Linked DNA regions of Homo sapiens: all the other regions are linked to region 2. The links come from fine-mapping of genetic effects on gene expression. A gene starts in region 2. Each other region holds a variant in brackets. All regions are shown on one strand. Distances are from middle to middle. Region 1 overlaps RTRAF (RNA transcription, translation and transport factor). Region 2 holds the start of GNG2 (G protein subunit gamma 2). Region 3 overlaps LOC101927598 (a long non-coding RNA gene).

Evidence for each region.
Region 1: its variant is fine-mapped to the expression of GNG2 in whole blood (TOPMed, PIP above 0.99).
Region 3: its variant is fine-mapped to the expression of GNG2 in cerebellar hemisphere (GTEx, PIP above 0.99). The same link has a PIP of 0.9 or more in cerebellum.

The regions. Positions count from the first base shown.
Region 1 is chr14:52,001,648-52,009,834 of GRCh38, forward strand. RTRAF (RNA transcription, translation and transport factor) reads left to right here. Exons shown (of 8, transcript NM_016039.3): 6 at 151-219; 7 at 2,547-2,595; 8 at 2,715-8,187. The coding sequence ends at 2,869. It overlaps NID2 (nidogen 2), which reads right to left. Exons shown (of 22, transcript NM_007361.4): 19 at 6,163-6,320; 20 at 4,890-5,013; 21 at 4,090-4,202; 22 at 3,162-3,849. The coding sequence ends at 3,839. Among named protein-coding and RNA genes, the nearest start is that of RTRAF, 16 kb to the left of the region's middle. The variant AGCT/A (reference allele first, on the strand shown) is at 4,383.
Region 2 is chr14:51,856,179-51,864,365 of GRCh38, forward strand. GNG2 (G protein subunit gamma 2) reads left to right here and starts at 4,434. Exons shown (of 4, transcript NM_053064.5): 1 at 4,434-4,612. RefSeq lists a silencer at 3,921-4,000 and enhancers at 4,053-4,554, 4,341-4,550.
Region 3 is chr14:51,801,749-51,809,935 of GRCh38, forward strand. LOC101927598 (a long non-coding RNA gene) reads left to right here. Exons shown (of 8, transcript XR_002957605.2): 3 at 6,873-8,187. Among named protein-coding and RNA genes, the nearest start is that of GNG2, 55 kb to the right of the region's middle. The variant T/C (reference allele first, on the strand shown) is at 3,148.

The sequences.
Region 1 (8,187 bases), 150 kb after region 2:
TTTTTTATTTTTAATTTAATGGGGAGTTTATTAATGAACTTAGGTAATTCTGACTTCATCAAAATGAGCATCCTTATTCTCTGGGCTCATAGAAGAAAGGATGACAGGTACACAGCCTATAAAAAGTAAAAATATTTTTGGGTTTCTTAGGCAATTCGGATTTTGGTTCAGGAGCGCCTGACACAGGATGCAGTTGCTAAGGCAAATCAAACAAAAGAGGTACGTTTCTATAAATCCTAAATAAGTTGTTAATGAACATTTCTTCTGGTATGGCCGTGATTTTAAACTTTGCATGTATCTGTTTAAGATATCCATTCTACGTTCTACAACTTAGAGAAAGGATAGCTTACTTCAGTGCTTCCTAAAGCAAATTGAATGTATTCAGTGGCTAGGGGGTCATTTTTGAGTGAAAAACTTCATGTTCCTCTCACTTTGTACCTTAAAAAAGCCACAAATAGCTCATGCACAGTCCACAAATCATGCTTGTGGCCCGTTGAAGTTTATTTAAAATGAGTTACCCATATGAAACTTACTGGATTATTTTGACTCATGCTGGAGAAGAAGGAACACACCTCACTACAAATTAGTTTTCTTTTTCTATCTAAATTCTATCCTTGCTCTTATTTCTTCAGAGTAAATTCTTGTTTTATTCAATTTCCTGGCATAAAACATGAGAAAGTAATTTGGCTAAGGTCACCTAGTTGGTAAGTGACTGAGCTCAGGCAGTCTGACTTGAGAGCCTGTGCTCTTACGGTAGGTGGGGAGAAGGGTCCATGCGTGGATGTCTGCATGAGCTTGTCAGTCTGCCCAGGTGAAGGGACAGGGGGTTCTGTTGGAGTGTAAGGTTCAAGGTACAGGTGACTGAAATGGTATCTTTCAGTCCTACCTTGTAGGCTGAGAAAAGCTATATCCCATGACTACCTTCCCCTTAAAGAGAAAATATGGAACATTTTTAGATTATATCAGAAATCCAAAGATGCCTAAAGTTTCACTGGCTGTGCAGCGGTGGAGAGACTGTCCTCAGGTCAGCAGCAGCAGTGTCTGATAACACCTGCCTCCTGCAGCAATGATGTTGTAGTGAATGCCTTGGGCACAACTATGTTGTTTGTCCTCCCTGCGCCCTTCCCCCATCTCCCAATGCCTTTTGTCCTCCAGCCCCTTTAGGCAGGCCAAGCAGTGTTAAAAGGTTACTAATGCCAGGGCAGTATCTCTGAAAGACACTGTTTTCTTTTAAAGGTTCTTACTGGCTCGTTGTATATGAATCGAGCCACTGGAAGTTGGGTTAAAGATCAGCTTATTTCACCCTCCCTATAGAACAGACAGTAAATTGTTCTGGTGTAATAAAGTCAATCATTCATTCATTCATTCCTTCAGCAAAACTATGCTTTGGAAGGCAGTGTAAGTAAAGGCTTAGCCAAATCTCTTTGCTCTTGTTTGTAAAGTAAAATTTAGTTTTATTTTTAATGCTCCCAATTTTAATTTTGGTGTCATCTCAAAAGATACCAGCCTATAACAATTTAGTGGAGTTCTTACAGTCTAGTGTACTTATAAGCATTTATAACTACTATTTGAGGCATATGGTAGTTTTCAGGGGTAGCTTGGTGGCCTGTTGGCAAAGGAAAAAAAAGTGGAGCCTCTGGTACTAGATGAACATATAAAGCCACTCAGTACAATTCTGCTCTTTAATTTTGCTCACTTGTGCTTTCGTACCCATTGGTTTCTTCAGACTTACATGTGTTAGCTGTTTTAAAGCAGACAGAGCCTACGTAGATTTACATTACTAGATAAGGCAAGAATTGAGCAGTGACTAAAGCATTTGAATAGTAACAGGTTGTAACATTGAAAGATTGAAAGTACGGGTAGTGTGTTTTTCTTGGCAGTGATTTTATATAATCAGCAGGAAGTACAGACTGTCCTCATTTTAGAATTTGTTTCTGTGAAGTTTGGCATCACCATAGTCACCATCTTTAGTATGTCCATAGGTGCTGAGTGGTTTAGTTTTTCATTTTCCTAGACTGTTTGTTTCAAAGTAACTTCCAAGTCAAGTCTTGAAAGTTAAATTATACATAATTATACATAATCTTGGCAAACACCATGCTGGCTGAAAGGTTCGTACAATTTGTAAAGACAAATTAATGTGCTCAGAAATGGAATATAAGGTACTATTTTTGCCGTTTATACTGTTGCTTACTGTCGCCAAAATAAGACAGTAACAGCCTGGCTCAACTTGCCTTCCATAGCAGTAATGACAAGGCACTGCTGCAATAAGGATATATTGTTTTGTATGCCTGGGCTAAAGGATTGGATGAGCTATAGAGCTTCCTGGTACATTTAAAGGTTAACTTTTCCCCCTAACCGGTTGAAATAGGGAAAACTCGCTAATCACAATCATCACAAAGCAAATATAAACAAAATTCCTAGTTCCCTTGCCCATGCAGCTAAAAGAGTTAAGACACCAGAATAGCTAGGTGCTTTTCAGTTTCAGTTGAGGAAAGGATGCTATTCTTAACCATAAATACTCTCATTTTGTCTTTCTTTTTTTAAAGGGCTTACCTGTTGCTTTAGACAAACATATTCTTGGTTTTGACACAGGAGGTAAGTGATTTTGTTTAAATTCAAACTATTTTTTTTACAGACTGAATACTTGGGAGGAAATAAATGGCCTTAAATGTAAAAATTATGTATTGAAGCAGTGTTCTTTTCTCATAAAACAGATGCAGTTCTTAATGAAGCTGCTCAAATTCTGCGATTGCTGCACATAGAGGAGCTCAGAGAGCTACAGACAAAAATCAACGAAGCCATAGTAGCTGTTCAGGCAATTATTGCTGATCCAAAGACAGACCACAGACTGGGAAAAGTTGGAAGATGAACACTTGAGGACTTCAGCTTCTCACCTACTTAGTACAGTTGGGAACCATACACTTCTGGCATGTTTGGAAATCAAAATGTCACATTCTCGGGGGAGGAAGCCCAGAAAATTGGGTATGTTCTAGAGATTTACCACCATTGCTTATTGCTTTTTTCTTTAATAAAGTTTAGGAAAGTAGAATTTTTATTATGTACTGTATGTTTGCATAAATCACCTTTCTCCTTTGTGGTTAAGGCATATATGCCAACCCCCAGCTTTGTCCTAGAGACAATATAGATCCTTAAGTCATAGGAAAACTTAAAACACTTTATTGGAGTAATCTAGAAAATTTTAAAATTGTTACATCTTTGGTATTTATAAATGTGATACTTTACTTTCTGTGGGTACTTCTATAGAGGCACTACAGGATCAGAAAATGCAAATTGAATCATTTTAGCACCTTTTGATATAAATAGAAATGCACTGATGCAGAGGTAAAAAATCTTAGAACTTTTGTTGGGAAACTATAAATAATTGGTCCTTTCCCATCAGTTCTGCATTGGCTTCTCCAACTGTCAAGGTTTAGGATTATATTGTTATATTGATCACATGTGCTTTAATTTCTTGGCCAGAAGGAATCCATGGCAAAAATCAGGTTTAGAGTCTTAAACTCTAATTCTTAGTTGAATGAATTTGATCTTTTAAATATTAATGATAAATGTTTACAAGAAGTTGCTTTAATAAGCAACAGTTAAAATTCTGTTACCTTTTTAAACTTGCAATAACAACCTTCATTTTTAAAAATACAGTAGTAAAGATTGAGGTATCAGCTTTTCACAAAAGTCTTTTTGCACTACAAAATGTTCATCTTGGATGCTCAGGAACGTCTAATGGCCAATTCCTTTTTTACTTTCTTTGCCTTTGCAGTCACTGTTCTTTAGGGTCCAGGTTCTGATTGTAAACTCCAAGTCTTCCTTTACATTACTGTACTTACTTTCTTCCTGTGAGAGAAGAGCAGGGGTGGGACAGGGTGGTGGGTGAGTATATTGTAACCAAGTTGCAACAGCAAGTCTTTGCATTTTGTGTATAAACTAGGTAGATTTAAGGTAGTAAAGACTGGCCCTCAGGGCAGGAAGAAGGCAATGGTGGCAGTGTCACAGGCAGCAGGGGTAATCAAATACCATATATATCCCTTCTCTACCCTGCTAATTTAAAGGAGCATCCTAAAGCATACTTTTTACCTGTTGGGCAGTAGGGGTAGACTGCAGTTATCCCGTAGAGGTGAGATCGTTGTTCTGGGAGATACTCATCAGTAAACTGGCCACTATGTTTATTTACTGATACAACACCATCCCTGGTAACAGAAAGGAAGAGTGAATTCAGGGACAGTCATTTACTAGATAAAGAAGTCAGTCAGCCACAGAAAATCAGTTGCAATAGAGGAAAATTTCTGGCAGCCTTCTCTGTCCCAGGGCTGGTGCTAAAGCCATACTGAAGTTTGAAGACCATTGCTCTAAATCCATTGCTCATCTCT[AGCT/A]GCATGTTAGAATCACATGATGAGCTATCAAATCAGAGTTGTAGGGCATGGTGTAAAGGGCTTAGACTTTAATGTTCCACAGTTCCTCATTTGAGAACTAGTCTAAATAGTATTTTTCGGTCCCTCAGACAATATGTCCACAGTGTCAAAAGCCAACTTAAGCCCTGTAATATAGCTCATGGTATCAAGGGTAGTCTTATTCTCTAAAGAACATATTTAGATTAATATGCTCCCTTTTGAGACATTATCCAATAGCTTTGCTACTTTTTAAGCTATATGTGAGCAATACCATTCGATTTCTGGGTGAAGTAAAAGGATGATTTCAAAAACATGAAAGGATGAAAAACATCCTTGAAGGATCTTATCTGCCAATGAGGAGGTGATGAAACAAAAGCCTCAGAGGGCTTAATGAGTCAAGTCAGGTACTGACTTTTGGTAAAACAAGTGGTGTGTCCTCTGGAACAGTTGGCCTTTTCAGGCTTGTCCAGAATTTGTGGGGCTCACCTCCTCCAGTCTGTGTGGTAGAAGTGATCTGCATAGCTTACGATGCTGAAGGGGTACTTGAGGTTGTTTTGAATGACACGCCGTCCAGTTCCATCAGGTAGTGTACACTCCAGTTTTTTGGTTCCTTTTAAAACAAAGGGGGAAAATGAGGTCCTTCAGCTGCTTTGCCAAAAATGATAGTGACATAGTGATAGTGACACAGTGATAGAATGGGGAAATAGGATATTTTACTTCCATTACAGTCATAGATTAGCAACTGTAAAATTACCTGTCCTATTACTAGTCTCCAGTTTTTAGTAGAGATTCAAACTTTCAATCCTTTTTTGGAAGACAGGATTGCATTTACTGAAATCTGGTAAGTTTCTGCCAAAGTAGGGCATTAAACATAATTATTTTTATAATTTGTGTGATTTCAAGCCTTAGCTTATAAATTATAACATCTGGGTAAATACTTGCCCTTTGTAAGCTATGTCTATAATTACTGAGGCAACCTTTTAACCAAAATCCTTAGTATTTTTAAAATATTTTCTAGGTAGGAGGAAAAAAGTGACTAAAATGGTAACATAACTCATATTTCAATGTAAAGGAATCAGTCTTAAAAATTTTTACAATAGCTAAACCATTCAAGAATTTCCAAGTTTCACATTTCTCATGGAGCCGATTTAAATTTCAAATCCTTTTAAGAAATGTAACTTGTTTTAAACAACTGGGTTATAAAAGTGACCTATGTACATTAGGCCCTTTTATTAGATTACAAATTCAAGAACAGTCTTTTTCATATTCTTTAGTATAGAACTAGACACACAGCATTTTTTCAGTTGTGCTGATAAAAGCAAACAAATGTAGGTTGCTAATACCCATGTTATTACTGAAGGAAGCTACCCTGCTACAATGCTTTCCAAAGAATGTCCTTAGCATTATAACAGATGTTTATAGGTAAGTTATAGTGACCCTCTCCCCGCATAAGAATAACTTCACTTAAGTTTGTCAATTCAACAATGGCTAATTCTTTTAACTGTTAAAAATATGCCAGGCACTCATGGTCAGGCAAGCAGTACAAACTTACTGCTTGATATATCCTTCCCTCCACCCAAACCCCAGAAAGTTCATTTTAAGACTCATTTACTAGTACTTAAATTTACTAGTACTTAAAAGTTTACAGACCAAAGAAAGGAGATCTAAGTGATGGGATTTCATTTTGTAGTAAAATCTGTTAGTGCTCACATTCACTGTGATGAGAGGTTATCTATTTGCATTCCATCAGTAGTATTACCTGCATCTGCCCAGCAGAGCAGTTTAGAGAAAGGGTCAAAGGTTAAGCCATTGGGCAATCCAATGTCTGTATTGATCAGAATTCTTCTGTTTTCTCCATCTAAAGATGACGTTTCAATTTTAGGAGCTTCTCTATTCCAGTCTGTCCAGTACAAGTTGCTGTAAGTTAAAAATCAAGATTGTAAAAGAATAGCCATGTAGCCTGTGGTAGGCAGCATCTAAGCAGCCCCCAGTGATCTCCATCTCCTCATGTATTATAGCCTTAAGCAATCCCCTTGAGTTTGGGCTGCATTAGTAGTGTCTTGCTTCTTCTAGTGCATAGAGTATAGCAGAAGTGATAGGCTATCACTGCCGATATTCGGTCTCAAAAAACTGGTTTCTGCCTTAGGGGCTCTCTCTTGCTCCCTTTGAGGGAAGCTGGATGCCATGTTGCAAGCTACCCTGTAAAGGGGAACATGTGCCAAGGAACTGATGTCCTTGAGGGCTGTTGGCCAGAGACATTAGTCTTGCCTGTAGCCCATGTGAGCATGCTTGGGCTGTGTCTTCCCCGAGCTGAGCCTTGTGATCACTGCAGTTTGGCCATTACCTGATTGCAGCCTTGTGAGAGACTCCATGCCTGAGGGAGCTCGGTGAAGACACACTTGGATTCCTGACTCACAGAAACTGTGAGACTAAATGTTATCTTACACTGCTGAGGGTTTGGGCAATTTCTTACACAGCAGTAGGTAACTAATACACAGCCATATTCCACTTTTACCTGTATCACAAGGTTTTCTGATTATTGTCACTATGTGGGAGAAGTCATTACTAAGTTACTATCAGAATCCCTGCCTCCAAGATACCCCTTGACTCAACTGCCCCAAAACCCTCCGTTTGTTGAAGTCTTGAATTGGATCTTGGGTTTTAGAATAGAAACAAATACAGCTGTTAGGAATGGCTTCGATACAAACTATGGAACTTGAAGAGATGTGGACCAGGGATTTGAGAAGGAAACTGTTCTTTCTTCTGCCAAAAATACAATTTGGTACTTGAAGGGGTACCTGGCACCCAGGGATGGAAACATTTTAAGTTAAGCACTTTACCTTTTAAATGCCACGTTAAAAATGAAATATATTCATAACAGATACTAACGAGGAAATATGGTCCTATTAAGTGGAAATAGGTTATAAGGAAACAAACAGGTTTATCGTTAGAGCAGAAATAATGTTGAAAGCACTTTTTATAAAATACTATTTTATAAAAGCTATAGAAGCTTTGAATAAATCAGTTGGGCTACAGAGAACCTCAGTGAGAGGAGAGGAAGAAACCATAGGTTTCCCCTGTTGCGAATTTCATCCCTTATGCCCAACAGATGAAGCAGAGAGAAGCTGAGAGCAAAAGCTAGAAAGCAGTTTCCACTTTGCGCTAAGGTGGAGGTGGCCAGAGGGTACAGCATGCATATCATTGCTTCATCGCTTCTGATCAGTCTCCTCCCCAAAATGATTTAATATCATCAACAACAATAAGTCTGAAACAAGCTCACACAGATATTTGGTGTAAATTATTTGGGGATTGCCAGAGGAAGAAAGTTGTAAAGGTGAAATCTATAGAAAGCAAATGAGAAATATGCAGGAAGGCTTGACAACCATTCTGTTACGCAGTTGAAGGAGATGTAATTACATGTGTTATATTGCAACCTGGTTCAAGGTGGGTTTTCTTTTTATTAAAAATTCAAGTCCTTTAGCATTTATATTTGCTGTCTGGATAAGAAAGTTCTACTTTCATATTTAAACTCATGGCTGTGATGTGGATTTCAGCTTAAAAGTATGCTTTTTCCCCAGACTCCAGAGACATGGCCAAAGTTTCATTGCCTACAAGATGGCAGCTCTCCCCAGTTTTCAGGTCAAGCACCAAGAAGGAATAAGGGGCCGGGCGCAGTGGCTCATACCTATAATCCCAGCACTTTGGGAGGCCAAGGCAGGTGGATCACCCAGGGTCAGGAGTTGGAGACCAAAATGGCGAAACCCTGTCTCGACTAAAAATACAA
Region 2 (8,187 bases):
AAAATAAAAAATGAAAAAATAAAGAACTAGCTGGGCATGGCGGGGGAGGAGAGAGAAGGAGGTGTACAGCATTGCAGAGAGATTAAAGAGTTTGGGGATTTGGCATATGAGATGCTCTGGGACAGTTGGAATGTGGCAAAGATTTGAGAGTGCAGAAGGGGATGTGAGAAGTGTTTCTAGCTTATTCATCAGTCTCTTTAAAGTTCCTACAGAGATACAAATAAAGAATAGCTTTCTTTTTAATATTTCTTTTCTTTTTTGTTGTTGTTGTTCGAGACGGAGTCTTGCTCTGTTGCCCAGGTAGAGTGCAATGGCAAAATCTTGGCTCACTGCAACCTCTGCCTCCTGGGTTCAAGTGATTCTCCTGCCTCAGCCTCCTGAGTAGTTGGGACTACAGGCGTGCACCACTACACCCGGCTTATTTTTGTATTTTTAGTAGAGATGGGGTTTCACTGTGTTGGCCAGGCTGGTCTTGAACTCCTGACCTAGTGATCTGCCTGCCTTGGCCTCCCAAATTGCTGGGATTACAGGCATAGGCCACTGAGCCCAGCCTTAATATTTATTTTCTAATTACTTTTTTGTTGCCAGACTATGCTTCTTTATAAGAAGTTCAATGCAGAAATGGAACTAGGAGTTGTCCCAGAATTTTTTAGGCTTGCCCATATAACAAATATTCAGAATTTTGTGTGCATGTGCCATGGATTTCTATAGAAAATTTGCAAAATATATATATAGAGAGGGAGGGATTTTATTTCTTACCCCATGACCAACTTCTCATTTTTGAGACTTCCTTTTCCTCCCCTCACTCAAAGGAATGGAATTTCTGCCAATGATGCCTTTTCATTATACAAACATCTGTTGACTCTGCTGTGTGACAAGCAAATGTGGACCTAACCTTAATGGACCCAAATGCTAATGGGTGAGATGCACATCTAACAAAACCTGAAAATAATGGCTTTAGTGCTGAAATGGAAGTAGAGGCAAGGCACCAGTCATACTCACAGAAAAGGAAGCACCTGCCTAGTTTCCACGGCCAGGGAAGGCTTCTGAGAAAAGCTGAGTCCTAAAGGATAAGTAGGGGTTTACTAGCAGGCAAAATAGAGGAAGGGATAGGGCATTTCTGGCAACAGAAATAGCATGTGCCAAGATGCAGGGAGAAAGCAGCACAGTCCCATCAGGAACCTGTTGTGAAGGTTGTAGGATATAAGGCTGCGACAGGCCCTAAGGTGAGAATGTGGACAGGTGACATCACAGAAGGCTTTGTATGCCATGCAGAGGAATTAAGGCATATATCCTGTAAGCAACCTGGAGGGGAAGATACTGAAGAATTATAGTAGGAAAGTGACTTGATCAACTCTCCATCTCAGCAATGTACTTCTGATGGGGATGGCTTCGAAGAGAGACTGGAGGTAGGAGGACAAAGTAGAAAGTATTGTAATTGCACAGAAAAAACCAAAGCATTTGTAAAATAAGACAGTGGCAAGAGGAAGAGAGAGGAGGGGTTTGGGCAAGGAGATAGTTTGGTGGTGAGAAGGAAAGGAAGAGGAACTTTAAATCAGATTGGGATAACAAAGATAAAAGGTTTTGGGATTATTCTTATATTCCTGATGTGGGCAACTGGTTTGTATTCCTCATTAAATGAAATGGAGAATATAGAAAGAGGAACAGGCTTTGGATGAAGGTATAGTACATAATTTGGGGATTATTAAACATAACTCCAAGGAACATCCAGCTAGAAAGCTCAATAACATAGGAGAGACATCAGGCCAAAATTATGTCCTCCTCATTACCCAACCTCCGCTACCAGTAGATGTAAGAAATACAAGGTATTAATGCCTGCAAATAGGCCATGCATGAATGTTAGAGTATTTTACAGACTTTGTTTTACCCAGTGATAAAATGTACTGGGATAGGCTCATGGTTAGCAATTGATGCATAAACTATTAATGGCGAGATGTCATTTTCCTAAGAAATTAACACTTTGCAAACTTGGTATGCAAACTTGTGTTAAGAGCTCTAAACTGGATTAATCTATCCTGGCCAAGCTATACCCCCACACTTTACTTTTCTCTCCTGAAAAAGAGGCTATTAGGACCAGTTGAAAAGCAATGAGGTATTAATGAAAGAGAGGTCTTAAAATCTAGTTTTTAGCTTTGTATAGAGTTTTGTTGGCACCTCCCAACACTGGCGATTAACCTACTGTGAGTTTTATAAGGGCCAGAGATGGAAGAACTAATTAAAAGGCAGCAGGCAAAATTCCTAGAGATTTTATTGTTTGAAAGAGGTTTTCCTATATAGGCTTAAGTATAAATACCAACCTATATAGGCTTAAATATAAATACCAACCATCGGAGGATGGTTGAGAGAGAGTTAGAAACAAAAAGACACAAAAAATTACTGTACTTGAATCTAGAGTTTATGCCAGAACCTACTTGTCTAAAATTAACCATAGTCTTGTTTCCAACCATTAATAACATGCTTCTCATTTTTCTTAGACTTGGCATCATGCATATTTAAATTTACATTTAAAAGTTCCTGGTAACCTTTGGCACAAGGGTTCCTGGTTTGGAGATAACTCACATGTTGGTGGATTCATGCCCAATCCCTCTCACTACTGCATTTCTATCTGCTGGTGGATCAAAGCTAGTTGCTCATTTTCAATCTTAAATCAATCCATTTTGTAATTTTCAGGTGTGAGTGAGTTGACATCAGGGTCCTTTTTGATGAAAGATTTCCTTGAAAAAATAAGCAAACTGTTCAAATCAAAACAAAGGGTGTTTTGGGACTGTCTCAGAACATTTCATAGAAATTAAATTCTGTACCTTCTAGGTTAACGTGCTGTGGTCCTCACGATGTGTTTGGAAGGCTCAACTGGAGAGTTATTCTCCATCAGTCCTAGATTTCTAACATTTCCTGTTAGTTTACTTGCTGGAGGATTAAGGCAAAACTGGATTAAAAAGGAGGAGTTGGGGAATTAACTGTTTCCTGGCAAGATTAGCTTTCCAGGCACTGATTCCTGAGAAGAGGTGTTTTTTGTTGTTGTTGTTTTTGTTTTTAACTCCATAATGTTGCCTGGACACTAGAACAGGATTCCCCTTCCCCCATCTCATGTTTAATCTGTAGCTTCCCCAAAGTACCTTGTGTTAGTACTAGGGGGAGAATGACTCACACGTTGAATAAATTGTTATTAAAGCATCTGGGCTCAATTGTGAACATACTAATAGTGAGGAATTGGAAAACCAAGTACTGGTGAGGGTTCGGCTGCTGACTGGCGAAATCACTTGCTGAATGTGAGGCCCAACATCCTCTAAAAATAATAAGAGTTAATATGTGCCGAATACGTCCTATATCCCCAGAACTATTATTAGCACCTTGTATACCATCTCATTTAATCCTCATATTTCCAATGTAGAGCATGACTATCATCAACTATGTTTTGCAGATGAGGAAACTGAGGCACATAGATGTTAAATAATTTGCCCAAGTTCATACAGTCATTAATGGCAATTTGGATTGAAATTCTGGCAGACAGAGACAGCTTGCAGGCTCTACCCTGGTGGGTTCTACGATATTACCTCCTAAGATGAAGGGAAGGGACTGGAGGATCATGAGGGTCCTTCAGCCCTACTAGTGTGTGTGGAATGGGGAGAGGAGTATTCAGTTTCTCTGTTGGGAATGTGCAGCATTCAGCACCACCTCATTCCTTCCCATCTATGAGAATCTTTTGGGAATAGTCCTCACTATTAGGCCTATAGGTAGCATTGCCAACTTGGTTTAGTTCCCGTGCCCCATAAGAATACTTATCAGGGCCATTCTTTTCTGAGCATGTGGGTTAAGTAAGATCTCAGTGGTAGTGGGACCTTGGAGAAATGAAGCCTCTGAAATGTTGGCCACAGAGAAAAATGCTGCAGTGAGAAGCTGCAAGCTGCAAGCTGCAAGCTCCCAGCTAGCTGGCTTGATGGGGACCACAGTAAATCAGGAGGAACAGTGGAGGCTGGTGTGGGATCTCGGGGGCCAGAACCTGGCCAGGGGATGTTGACCCAAAAAAAAACAGCAGCAGCAGTAGAAACAACAACAGCAAGAACAACAATAGCAACAAGCCAGGTTCAGGCTAAAAAAGCAGGCAGTGTGCCAGGAAGGGGGCCGACTGAGCAGTGTGTGGAAGCTGTCGTGGAGGTGACCGTGGGGGGATGAGAAAAGGGGAAGGAAGGAACAGACAGCACCAGAGGGACTTGAACAAAGGGAGAAGGGGGATTAAAGTCAAATCACTGTCAGCAGCCCAGGAGCAGACAAAACCACCAGAGTAAGCCCTGAAATGGAAATGAGAGGGAAAAGAAGCAAGCCGCTAACAGCTACCAAGAAGAGGAGGAAGTGGGAGATGCGCTGCTTCCTGTAGAAAGAACGTTGATTGAAGACAAAGCTGGGTGGGGACTAGTCCCTGGGCTGCAGCCGCTGCTACACATACTCACAACGCTGCCGCCGCGCTCCGTGGGCAACTCCTACTACTGCTGGGCTGGGCTGGGCTGGGCTGGGCTGCGCCGGAGCTCGCCTGCACAGATCAGCTCCGGAGAGGGGAAAACCACGCTCCTCGGACCAAGCCTCGGGAGCTAAGGTAAATGAAACGTTTTCCATGTTGCTCGTTTTTAATTGAGAAAAACGACCGTCGCTTGTGGTTTTAAGGTCCGATTTCTAAGGGATGATAGAGACATCGCTTCAGGACTAGGGGAAATGATTAGATTCTTTTGGAAGGGTCTTTGAGAATAACCACATTTATGACACATTTGATTTAAAAAAACCTCATCATCAGTGCTTAGATTTGATGACTAAACAGGCCAACATGCTAAATACAAGAAGCTGTTTGTATAGTTCTCTCGGAGGAAAACCAGGGCTGAGTCGAAATCCATCTGGGGCTGTGAAGCTGTGGTCTGGTCATCGGAGCCCGGCAGTCCCCTTGTTTTAGGGGAGTGAGTGGTGTAAAATATTAATTGCATTCTCTTTCTTACACATTGCACTGGGATATCTTCTGTTTTGCAAAAATAATGGCTGTGATTTGGCTTTTGGGGGAGTTAAATTCTTTTGTACTTAGATTTTGCCAACAAAGGCTTGAATTGCGTATGTGAGGGGCAGTATTTACCATTAAAAAACAGTGTCTTCCTCCCTCAGCTTGTGCAGCTGCTTTCAGGATAACCTCAGACACAGCTATCATTTGCCAGTAGGTCTTATCCTAAAGTTGCATCCTTGTTCAAAGGAGCGTGGCGGGTTTAAGGCCAGTAACTTGTCCAGAATCAGATACTAGCATATGCATGGATTTTATGTTTATATGCATTTTATTCACCTCTAGGTCAAGGTGCATGTTAGCCTCGGTGAGGGACAAAATAAAAAAGTGCAGCTGGGTTGTTTCCTTACGCGAATATCTGGTAGATAGACTGAAGTAGTAAAACCAGAACATGATTTTTATTCTTTGATTTTCTTGAGCAAAGGATGTTCTTAATGAGAGCCTGGGTCTATGACTTGTTCATATTTATGAATGATATGTAAAAGTACACTAAATAGGTCTAGCAGATGAGAACTGAGATTGTGAGATTCCTCTGACAGGATATATTAGGGAGTTTAATACCCTCATGCAGCACGATTTAAAGAATTAAGCTTTTTTAATCTTCAACAGAAAGTACAGTTAAGCAGTAAGTAGTCATTGATAAAAGGGTTTTTCTTCTAGAGTTTCTATAATGAAAGGAGATAATTTTTCAAAAGAAAGAGAAAAAACTGCTTATAGTGGAGTAAAAATTTAAAAAAAGTCAATATTTTGACACTCACAGATTCTTGAAACATAGGTTCTTAGATACCAAATATGCTAGTTGAGAGTGTATGTATGTATATGCCTCCTCCTTTATCATCGTTCTCACTTGTTAAGAGCTATAGGGCTATTTTTAATGCTATCTTTATGAAATCGATATGGCTTCTCAAAATCTGTGGAGTAGCAGCACATTTTGAGAGATGGGAAGCTTTTATAGCTACTAAAGAAAAAAAAAGTCTATTTCTCAGAGGTTTTTTGCTCATTAAAGTAAACCTGCACCATGCCTAAGAGACAAAGTACTGCTAGTATTGAAACCATGGAACTCCTTGAAGGATTCACTGAATTTAATCAAACTTGTGGGCAAAACAAGTCGTGACATGGATTTTGCAGTTCCACTTCCTATTTGCATCTTAAAGGGAAGTATGTAAAGATCATCTTCTTAGAGAAGAGACCTAGGATAGATCTTCGATCCAGAATGACCCAGTGGAGTTCTAGAATCAAGCTGTGCATCATGAAATGAAGTAAAAAGTTGGCAACCTGAGCTGCATGGATAAGGACAGGCTTACCCTTTGGTACTTACTCCTCTGCAGGCTGTATTCACTAGATAATGCCAACACCCTACTTTGTTTGGGGAGGCACAGACAATCTGCATTAGTCTTCTGTGTGTGTTTCACACATGAGTAAGAAAATGAAACCTTGCCCGACGGGCATAGTAGAGTCAAGAGGGCCTTGCTATCTTTCTGAAAACAACTAAGAGGTGCCTATTTTCTGCACAGCACAAAACATTTCTTAATCGTTAAATTCCAGCTTGAAGCAGAACATTAGTGAGTAACAGCAGATCAGTAACTATGATGGTAGAATGTTTAGGAAAAAGATGAATATGCTTCTACATTGTAAAATGAAACTATTTCCACTTATTCTGGCCATATGGAATATTGAAAGACTTAATGATTTTTCCTGGGGTATTCACTGGCTTTTGAGGAGTAGACCAACACAGAAATTTTAATTGTGCTTTTTTTTTTTTTTTCTGCCATATGGCCAATGGCTGAATGGAAACATGACTCCATTATTTCATTGCCAGCCTTGGGCCTCATATGGTGGACATGTAGTGAATGTGTTTGTTTGACTGACTTTGTTTAGCCTGCTTCAGAAAGCAGGCCCAACTTTTAAGTCTAAAAGCTGTATAGTCAAAGTAGAAAGCCTGTTCATAAAAGACTTCTGTGGGTAGGAGAAAACACTGTGGAGTGAAAAGAACGCAGGCTTTGGAGCCAGGCAGATCTGCCTTTGAAACCTATTACTGGTTCTTACTACTTACCTTGGTACATTAACTTAGGAACCTCAGTTTCCTCATTGTAAAGAAGGGCTAGTAATACATAATCAAAGTTGTTGTTTTGCTTTGTTTTTGCTTTTGTGTGCGGATAAGTGAGTGATTTCTACATAGAAGGTACTGAAATGTTATTTTTTTCTTCCTTGGTGGCATAAGGAAAAGTTAGCATATTCTTGGTCTTTACCACTGCCTCACAGGTTTAGGGAGACTTTTTTTATAGTGATAAAATATACATAACATAACATTTCCCATTTTAACTATTTTTTTAAGTATGCAGTTCTGTGGTAGCGAGTACATTGATGTGCTGTCATCACCACCGTCCATCCATAGAACTGTCTTTATCTTGCAAAACTGAAATTCTATACCCATTAATCAATACCTCCTCTTTCCCTCCTTCTCTCAGCTCCTGGAAACCCCCATTTTACTTCTGTCTCTATGAATGTGACCAAGTATCCCATATATGTGAAGTCATACAATATTTGTCCTTTTGTGACTGGCTTAATACACTTAGCATAATGTCTTTAAGATTCATCAATGTTGTAGCATGTGCTAGAATTTCCTTCCTGTTTAAGCTGAATAATATTCCATTGAATGTATAGACTATACTTTGTTTATTCTCTTTTGATGGACACTCGGGCCATGTTTTGGCTATTGTAAATAATACTGCTATGAACACGGGTGTACAAATATCTGTTAGAGTCCCTGCTTTTACTTCTTTTGGGAACCCAGAAGTGAAAATGATGGAACACAGTAATTATATATTTAATTTTTGAAGAATTGCCATACTGTTTTCCATAGCAGCTGCACTATTTTACATTCCCACCAGCAATGAACAAGGATTCCAACTTCTCCACATTCTCATCAATATTTATTTTGTTTTTTATTTATGTTTTTGATAATAGCCATTTTAAGAGGTATGAAGTGGTATCTCTTTATGGTTTTGATGAGCATTTTCCTAATCACTAGTGATGTTGAGCATCTTTTCTTGTGCTCATTGGCCATTTGTATATCTTCTTAGAAAAATGTCTATTCATATTCCTTGCTGATGTTTTTCCCCAGAAATACT
Region 3 (8,187 bases), 54 kb before region 2:
ACTGCAGTGGTGCAATCACAGCTCACTGCAGCCTCAAACTTCTAGGCTCAAGTGATCCTCCTGCCTCAACCTCCCAAGTAGCTGGGACTACAGGGGTGCACCACCACACCTGGCCTTGTTTTTCTTTTCTGACAGCTGGTGCTACTCTCTGATAGTACCAACCAATATATCATAGACCTCTCTGCACTATTTGGATTTTATTCCAGGACACCTGAACTGAGGGTAGAGAAGGAAGGAAGAAAGAAGAAAAAAGAAAATCATGACCACCACACTCTCCTGTGAAAATTCTACCTAATGGGTATATTGTTTATAAATCATATGAATCAGCCTGTAACCTAGAATGAAGCCACCAGTGCACAACAAATGCTCTTTTATGGGGTGGGGTTAATGTCTGCAGTTCTGGGCAGCATTGTAATTTGAATACAGGATTTGGTGTGATAATATGTAACAGCAAATGTCAAATTAGGTAGGGGTGTGTACACACTATTTCTATATATATATATAAGTATGTATGAAAGAGTTGGAAACTTACCTATGTAACAAGATATTTTAAAAACAGAGAGAAGGACCCAGAGCAGGTGGTTGAAAGTATCAACATGAGCTAATGCTCCATGAAACATGCTCCATTGCTCATAGGCACATTTCTCACCCTCACTTATCCATTTGGAGATGAATAATTCTTTGTGGTAGGGACTGTTCTGTATATTCCTCTATCTACTAGATGCCAGGCATGCAACCGCCTGTTCAGGTTATTCTAGAGTATGTGTATGAAAGGACAGCTGTTAAGGAAGCAAGTCCAATTCCACAGCTTCAGAAAGTAGATGCCTAAACCTACAGAATGGGAGAAAATTTTTGCAATCTACCCATCTGAAAAAGGGCTAATATCCAGAATCTACAAAGAACTCAAACAAATTTATAAGAAAAAAACAAACAACCCCATCAAAAAGTGGGCAAAGGATATGAACAGACACTTCTCCAAAGAAGACAATTATGTAGCCAACAGACATATGAAAAAATGCTCATCATCACTGGTCATCAGGGAAATGCAAATCAAAACCACAATGAGATACCATCTCATACCAGTTAGAATGGCGATCATTAAAAAGTCAGGAAACAACAGATGCTGGAGAGGATGTGGAGAAACAGGAACACTTTTACGCTGTTGGTGGGAGTGTAAATTGGTTCAACCATTGTGGAAGATAGTGTGGTGATTCCTCAAGGATCTAGAACTAGAATTACCATTGGATCCAGCAATCAAATGGTAATTTGACCCATTACTGGGATATATCCATTAGGTAGAACCCAAAGGATTATAAATTATGCTACTCTAAAGACACATGCACACGTATGTTTATTGCGGCACTATTCACCATAGCAAAGACTTGGAACCAACCCAAATGTCCATCAGTGATAGACTGGATTAAGAAAATGTGGCACATATACACCATGAAATACTATGCAGTCATAAAAAAGGATGAATTCATGTCCTTTGCAGGACATGGATGAAGCTGGAAACCATCATTCTCAGCAAACTATCACAAGGACAGAAAACCAAACACTGCATGTTCTCACTCATAGGTGGGAATTGAACAATAAGACCACTTGGACACAGGGCAGGGAACATCACACACCAGGGCCTGTCAGGGGTTGGGGGCTGGGGGAGGGATAGCATTAGGATAAATACCTAAGGCAAATGATGAGTTGATGGGTGCAGCAAACCAACATGGCACATGTATACCTATGTATCAAACCTGCTTGTTGTGCACATGTACCCTAGAACTTAAAGTATAATAATAATAATTTAAAAAGAGAGTGGATACCTATTAATCAAGAACTAACTACAATTTAGCAAATTTATTTCTAGGCTGGGGGAATGAAGCCTAAGAGTTGGACACAGGAGTCAGTACTTAGCCCTGAGAACATCTCAAAACCAACCCTCCCTCACCTCCAAAAATACCTTCTAGTTTCTGTCCTCAAGAATATCCTCCATTTCTCTACTGTTGAGATAAGGGGAAAGAAGACAATAAAACAAACATCTTGACAACCTTGTGGGGCTTAGCCCAGACTCCCTAGAGAAACTCTCTTGACCAGAAGGCTGTAAGTTGCTTTCCAAAATGGGTTTTTGATGACTACAGAGTGTACTGTCACATAGTAAATGTGGACATTATTTATGTCCCTGGACAACATCCATTTGATTTTCCTTTGGGAAATTCATCCACACGTTTTGGTCACATATTTTGGTTAAATGACCTAGTCTTCAGCTCTAAGGGATTGCCTTAAGTCAATCAGCACCTTCCATCTTCTCTGGCCACAGTGATTAGTTCAGAGATGAGTGTGTTGCCCAGTGCAATGAGACACAATAAATACTAGGAATTGTTGAGAAGATGAGGATTGCTCAGAATGTGGTAGCAACCTAGGTGGTGCTGAGTGAAGTTCTGAGGTTGAGAACTGTGGCAGACATGTTGCTGCCATGAAGGGAATGGGCCTGATGGAAAGAAAGCACTAAGAGTTATGATCAAGACTTACCATTTGATTCCTGGATCAAACTGTACCTGGAGTCAGGGCTCAATCTGGACTATTCAGTTATATAAATCAATTATTTTAATGTTTTCTTTTTAAAATTTAACCCAGGATATAAATTTTCTATCACTTGCAACATAAAGGGTTATAAAAGAAATACTATATAGGCAGATTCTCTGGGAAAACCTCTCCTGGAGGATCTGATTTGGCAGGTCTGAAGAGAACCCAAGAACCTATAGTTTTTGAAGTTCTCCAGTTGATTCCAATAACTAGCCAAATTAGGACATCTCTCTATGGCATGATTCTCAACCCTGGCTGCATGTTAGCATTGCCTGGGAAAGCAAAGACACTCACAGAGCTTCCAAAAATAGATCCTGCCCCAGAAGAATTTCATAAGACTTCGAAGAGTAGTACCTTATCAAAGCTTTGCAGGTTAACGTTTTAAAAATTGGATAATACCAACTGTTGGAGAAGTTATATGAGAGCAACTGGAACTCTCCTACATAGCTGGTAGAAATAGAAATTGATATAGACATTTTAGAAACGTTTGGCGGTATTTACTGAAGCTAAACATATGCCTTCCTTATGGCTCAGCAGTTCCACTCCTAGAATTGAGTGGATATGACA[T/C]GTGCAAGATTGTTCACAGAAGCTTTATTTATAATAACCAAAAAATGGGAAAATCCAAATGTCCATCAATAGTAGAATGAATAAATTGTTGTATATGCATTTGATAAAATATTACACAGTATTTATTATATATTTATATATAATATAAAAGTACAAACTACTTATAAATTGTAAAAAATCCTTGTAAAATTCATCAAGCTTTACACGTAAGACTAGGGCACTTTACCAGATATATGTCATATCTCAATAAAAAGTAAAAATCAAACAGGAAAAAAAAATGACAGGAATGTGCATCCAGAGTTGAAGAGCCTTGTTCAAGAGCCTCCAGCCTCAAAAGGGCATTTAACAATAGGTCACGCTCTGCTTGGTTTATAGAACGTACCTTGTCCCTCTTATTTCCCTGAAGTCCTTCTTTCAATGGGACGCCATGAAGACTGGCCTTCCTGTGTCATTCGTGCCCCCCAGCCTGGGGGCAATGGGAAGGAGTGAATTAAATGCTCTAAATATTAAACTACTTGTAAACTTCCATTTTTGCTTATAAGAATGTCTTATGCAATGATACCACTGGAAAAGATAAATCCAAAATTTATCTGTGTATCTTCCTTTCCTGTGATATTTTCTAAACTGTAATATGGATGATATGTTGCTTTTTTCTCATATTGTACAGTGAAGAAGCTCCTTGGCATCCTAGGCTGAAAGTGAAATTCATTTTAAAATATCTCTCCTGCCTTCAAATGATGGTCACAGCTATCTGACTGGGAAGCCAATTACATTACAGCCCCCACTCCAGCACATCTTAATAGAGTGCTATACCTCAGCAGGGAACAAAAGTGCGGCTGCCCCTCCTGGCCCAAGGCTGGCAGAGGCTTCTCAGCCCTGCCCAATGCCAGTATCTGAAATAAAAACAAGTAGTTAAATCTTCCCTTCAGATTGAAGATTCCCATCCAGTTCCTAGAATGAATTAAAATCCCATTCAAGATTGACATTATAAAATTCTTAAGATTTCCACTATTTACGGTTGGAGCCTTCTTTTTCCAGTAGTGGGTTTATCTCTAACCCTAGAAAATACCCTTCTCTTTATTTTGACAATAATCATCACAAGCTACTCTGTGCAAAGCAAGATTTCAAAGCAAGTTAAGGTCCAGCTTTTATCCTAATGAGATTTATCAGGGACGTATGACATCTGCAAAAGGAAACATATTATGGTACAAACTATATCAAGATTTTTTTTAAGGGAGTTCAAACAACGTGGCCTGAGGGTTCAGAGTGGCTGAGATCACTTCCAATTAGGAGGAAATAACCAGAACCCCCCCTTGCCAGTCTCTGCCCATGCCATATTTACATAAAGAGCAGTTAGAGGGCAAGAATGATGGAAAAGCAATTGAAACCCTACTGGATCCTCTGGGAGAATGTCAAAGGAAATACAAGAGATTGGCTGCAGCAAATCCCATCCTCCTCCATTTCTCTCTATCTCCCACACACTCTGGATAGAGAGTGGGAGAGGCTGCGATGACCCCAGGCTAATTAGTCTTGTCCTGTAACAGATGGCTTAGATCAGCCTCTACTGTAAACCTCTGATGTTGTTCCTCCCCCTTTCTCTCCATTCACCAAAACAATAAAAACTCTAAGATCTGGAGCTTAGAGTGTACTGATGATGTGATTAGTCTGAGTATTTTATCTTCATTTAATTTTCATCGCCGCCCTCTGAGCTGGATTTAACTCATGTACAAGCTATAGATGAAGAAACCAAAGCATAGAGGAGTCAAGTAGCTTGCCAGATTCTCACAGCTGGTATATGGTAGGCCCAGAACCTTATCCTGGACTCCAAGCCCATGCTGAGATTGTTAAGTGTGAGCTCCATGGAACCTTCCTCCAGAAACAGGGCTCTGGACTACAAAGACAGCCCTCCAGACTGTAGCTGTCCAGGGCCCTGGGGCTGAAGAAAGACTTGCATGACCACAGGAGCTCACACTTACAATCCATACTCTCACTTAGCCTCAAAGTATTTGATGGTAGTATGTTGTCTTTGATTTTTATTTGTATCTATTCATGTCTGTGTGCCTGCCATCTCCGCACCATCATAAGCTGTTGAGGACAGAGACTATGACTTCCAGGACCCACTAGGAATCTGATATTGTCAGGCTGCCTTGACAAGAGTATGGGTTCAATAAACACCTGATTCCCTTTCCCATATTCCCTTTTGCTCCCAGTGCCTAGCACATACTTGGTACTCCAAAAATATTACATGAATCGAAGACAGTAAGGACACAAATGTATTTCAGAATTTTAGGCATAAGTTCTACATACCACTTTCATTTCTGTAACTATATTTTGTATATTTCATGCTACAAAACAAATAATAAATAATGGCAGGAAGGCTTATTACAGAACTATCAGATGAGTTATGGCAGACTAATAGCAATCTTGCCCCAAAGCATCATCTGATCTAATGCATTAGTATGATTACTCTCAGCCTTTGAGTGAATTTAAATCATGCTTTTCTTTCTCTCTGTTAGTAAGAGCAATGATTAACCTGTTCATGAAACAAAACAAATGGAACTGGAAAAATAAGACTCACAAGCCACAGAATATATGACTAATGATCAGAGGGAGAGAGGCTAGCAATATCCGCAGAGGTCTGCCCTCAGCTCACAATTCATTCCCTTAGCTCATCCCCACTTGCCCTCACTCGGGGATCTGTGCTCCGTCACGTGTAGCAGGAGCTGCTGGGTCTCCTGCCCAGACTCTGCTGCTGTAAATCATTGCTCCTCAGAGCTGAGTGTTGCATGCCAAGATTGGAATTGCTAGTATCCAGAATCCTGCGGACAAGCTTCTGCCGTAGACTTCTCCTTTGGATCTGAAAAGTGCCCTTGTAAAAAGGGAATTTCAGTATTGGGAGTCCAAGGTTTGATAAGATGAGGGTTGCAACATGACTAGGTAAATGGAACCTCAGATGACTGTGAGATTACCTTACAGGGCATGGGTTGTGCGTTTCCACCTTACAGAAACAGGGGTTCTATGATAGGAGGAGCACTTCAGAAGCTGAAGAAGCACTTAGACACCCTCCCCTGAAATATTTCTCATTAATCAATTAAATCAAGGCATTTTGGTGCAACGGTGACTCCTTAGGGATTATGTATATATTACTTCTAATCTCCCCTGCCCTGGAGCTTAAACCCTAGGCCTCACCTGACTTCTTTGTGTTTTGCACCAAACTGAGAGCTAGAGCCACCAAATACTACTACTAATTAACATTTATGAAGCACTTACTAAAGCCAGACACTGTTCCAGACCTTTGTATTAGCTTATTTAATTCTCACAACAACTCTCTAAGGTAGGATTTATATTTCCCTGTAATTTATGGTTGAACAAATGGAAGCACAAAGAAGTTTGGTAACTTGCTCAAGCTCAAAGAGTAGGTAAGAGTTGAGATTCAAACCTAGATAAGGGTAGCCCTGGAGCCCACTCTTTAAACTCTGTAATATGGCTATGCTAAGAAAGAACAGTAGGTAGAGATGTCAGAAGAGTCAGAGGCAGAGGTATGTAGAGGGAGAGGGAGAAGATTGCCACAGCTTCCCGTTGCCACTCCTCGCTTCCAAAGATGGAGTCCATATGGGCTGGCTCCGTGACTTGCTTTGACCAATAGAATGTGGCAGAAGTGACATTGTATATGTTAGAGGCCTAAGCTTTAAGAAGTACAATAGCTTCTGCTTTTTCCCTTTTAGAAACCAAGGATAAGAACATTAAGATTATCCTGCTGGAGAGAGAGGCCATGCGGAAGAACCCTGGAAAATGAGACAGCTCACAGAGCAAGAGGCCATGTGGAGAAGGCCTAGAAGTAAAATGCCTCATGGAACAAGAGGCCACATGCAGAAGGCCTGGAGGATGAGACGCCCTGTGAAGTGAGAGGCCACGTGGAGAAGGCCTAGAGGAGGAGACACCTTATGGAGCAAGAGGCCGAATGGAGAAGCCCCAGAGGGTTAGACACCTTGTGGAGCAAGAGGTCACACGCAGAAGTCCTGGGAGTGAGATGCCTCACGAAGCGAGATGCCTCGTGAAGCGAGATGCCTCGTGGAGTGAGAGGCCATGTGGAAGAACCCTGGAACTCAGCGGCTGATAACACAAAGATCCCATGGTGTGAGAGAGGCCTTCATGAACTTCCCGTCCAGCCCAGCTAGAGCCAAATGGAGCCATATGTGTGACCGCAAGTGACATCTACAAAAGAACGACCCAGTCACCCTGAGAATTGTTAGAAATGCAAAGCACTAAGTTTTGGGGTAGTTTGTTACACAGCAATAGCTAACTGATACAGATGGTTTGAATTACTTGACTTTAAAGTTCCTTCTTACCCTGAAAGTTTATGGCTTAGTAAAGTGAATTAAGCACATTTGACTGAAACAGAGAGATGGTGTAGGAAAAGATCAGAAGGTAAGGGCAGGGCAAGGTGAGGAAGGCTTTCCGTGCCACGATAAGGAATTTGAGCTTTAACTGGTAGGTTCTGAAGCTGTCCCAGGAGGAAGTGACATGAGAAGATAGTTTTTTAGGAAGACCCACACTGCAGCAGCATGTAGATCAGACACGTGGGCACACAGAGCAGATGTGAGAGAGAAGGAGGCATGGAGACCTGATTGCTGAGGCAAAAAGATGCAGCTGACAATTATGGAGCAACAAGCTACTGAATACAGAATTGAACATTCAGTCTTCAAGACACAGATGTAAGCTGCTTTCTCTGTATCAGCCTTCTCTGTATCAACTCTTCATTTTTTCCAACTATGATGTTTTTACTTTCAAAAATCCATGGGAGAATACATGGTATGTCGTTAAAAGCCTGGGATTTGAAATAAGAAAGCCTTAGCTTTAAACCCCTTCTCTCACCTTCTAGCTGTGTAACTCTGGGCAAGTTACTGAACCTTGCTGTATCGCAGCTTCTTCATTTGTAAAATGGATATAATGATATTTGTCTCACAGGAGTAATGCAAAGATAAAAACGGATTATGTCTCATGCATTTACTTTTACTAAATGGCTAAATGCTCAAGCAA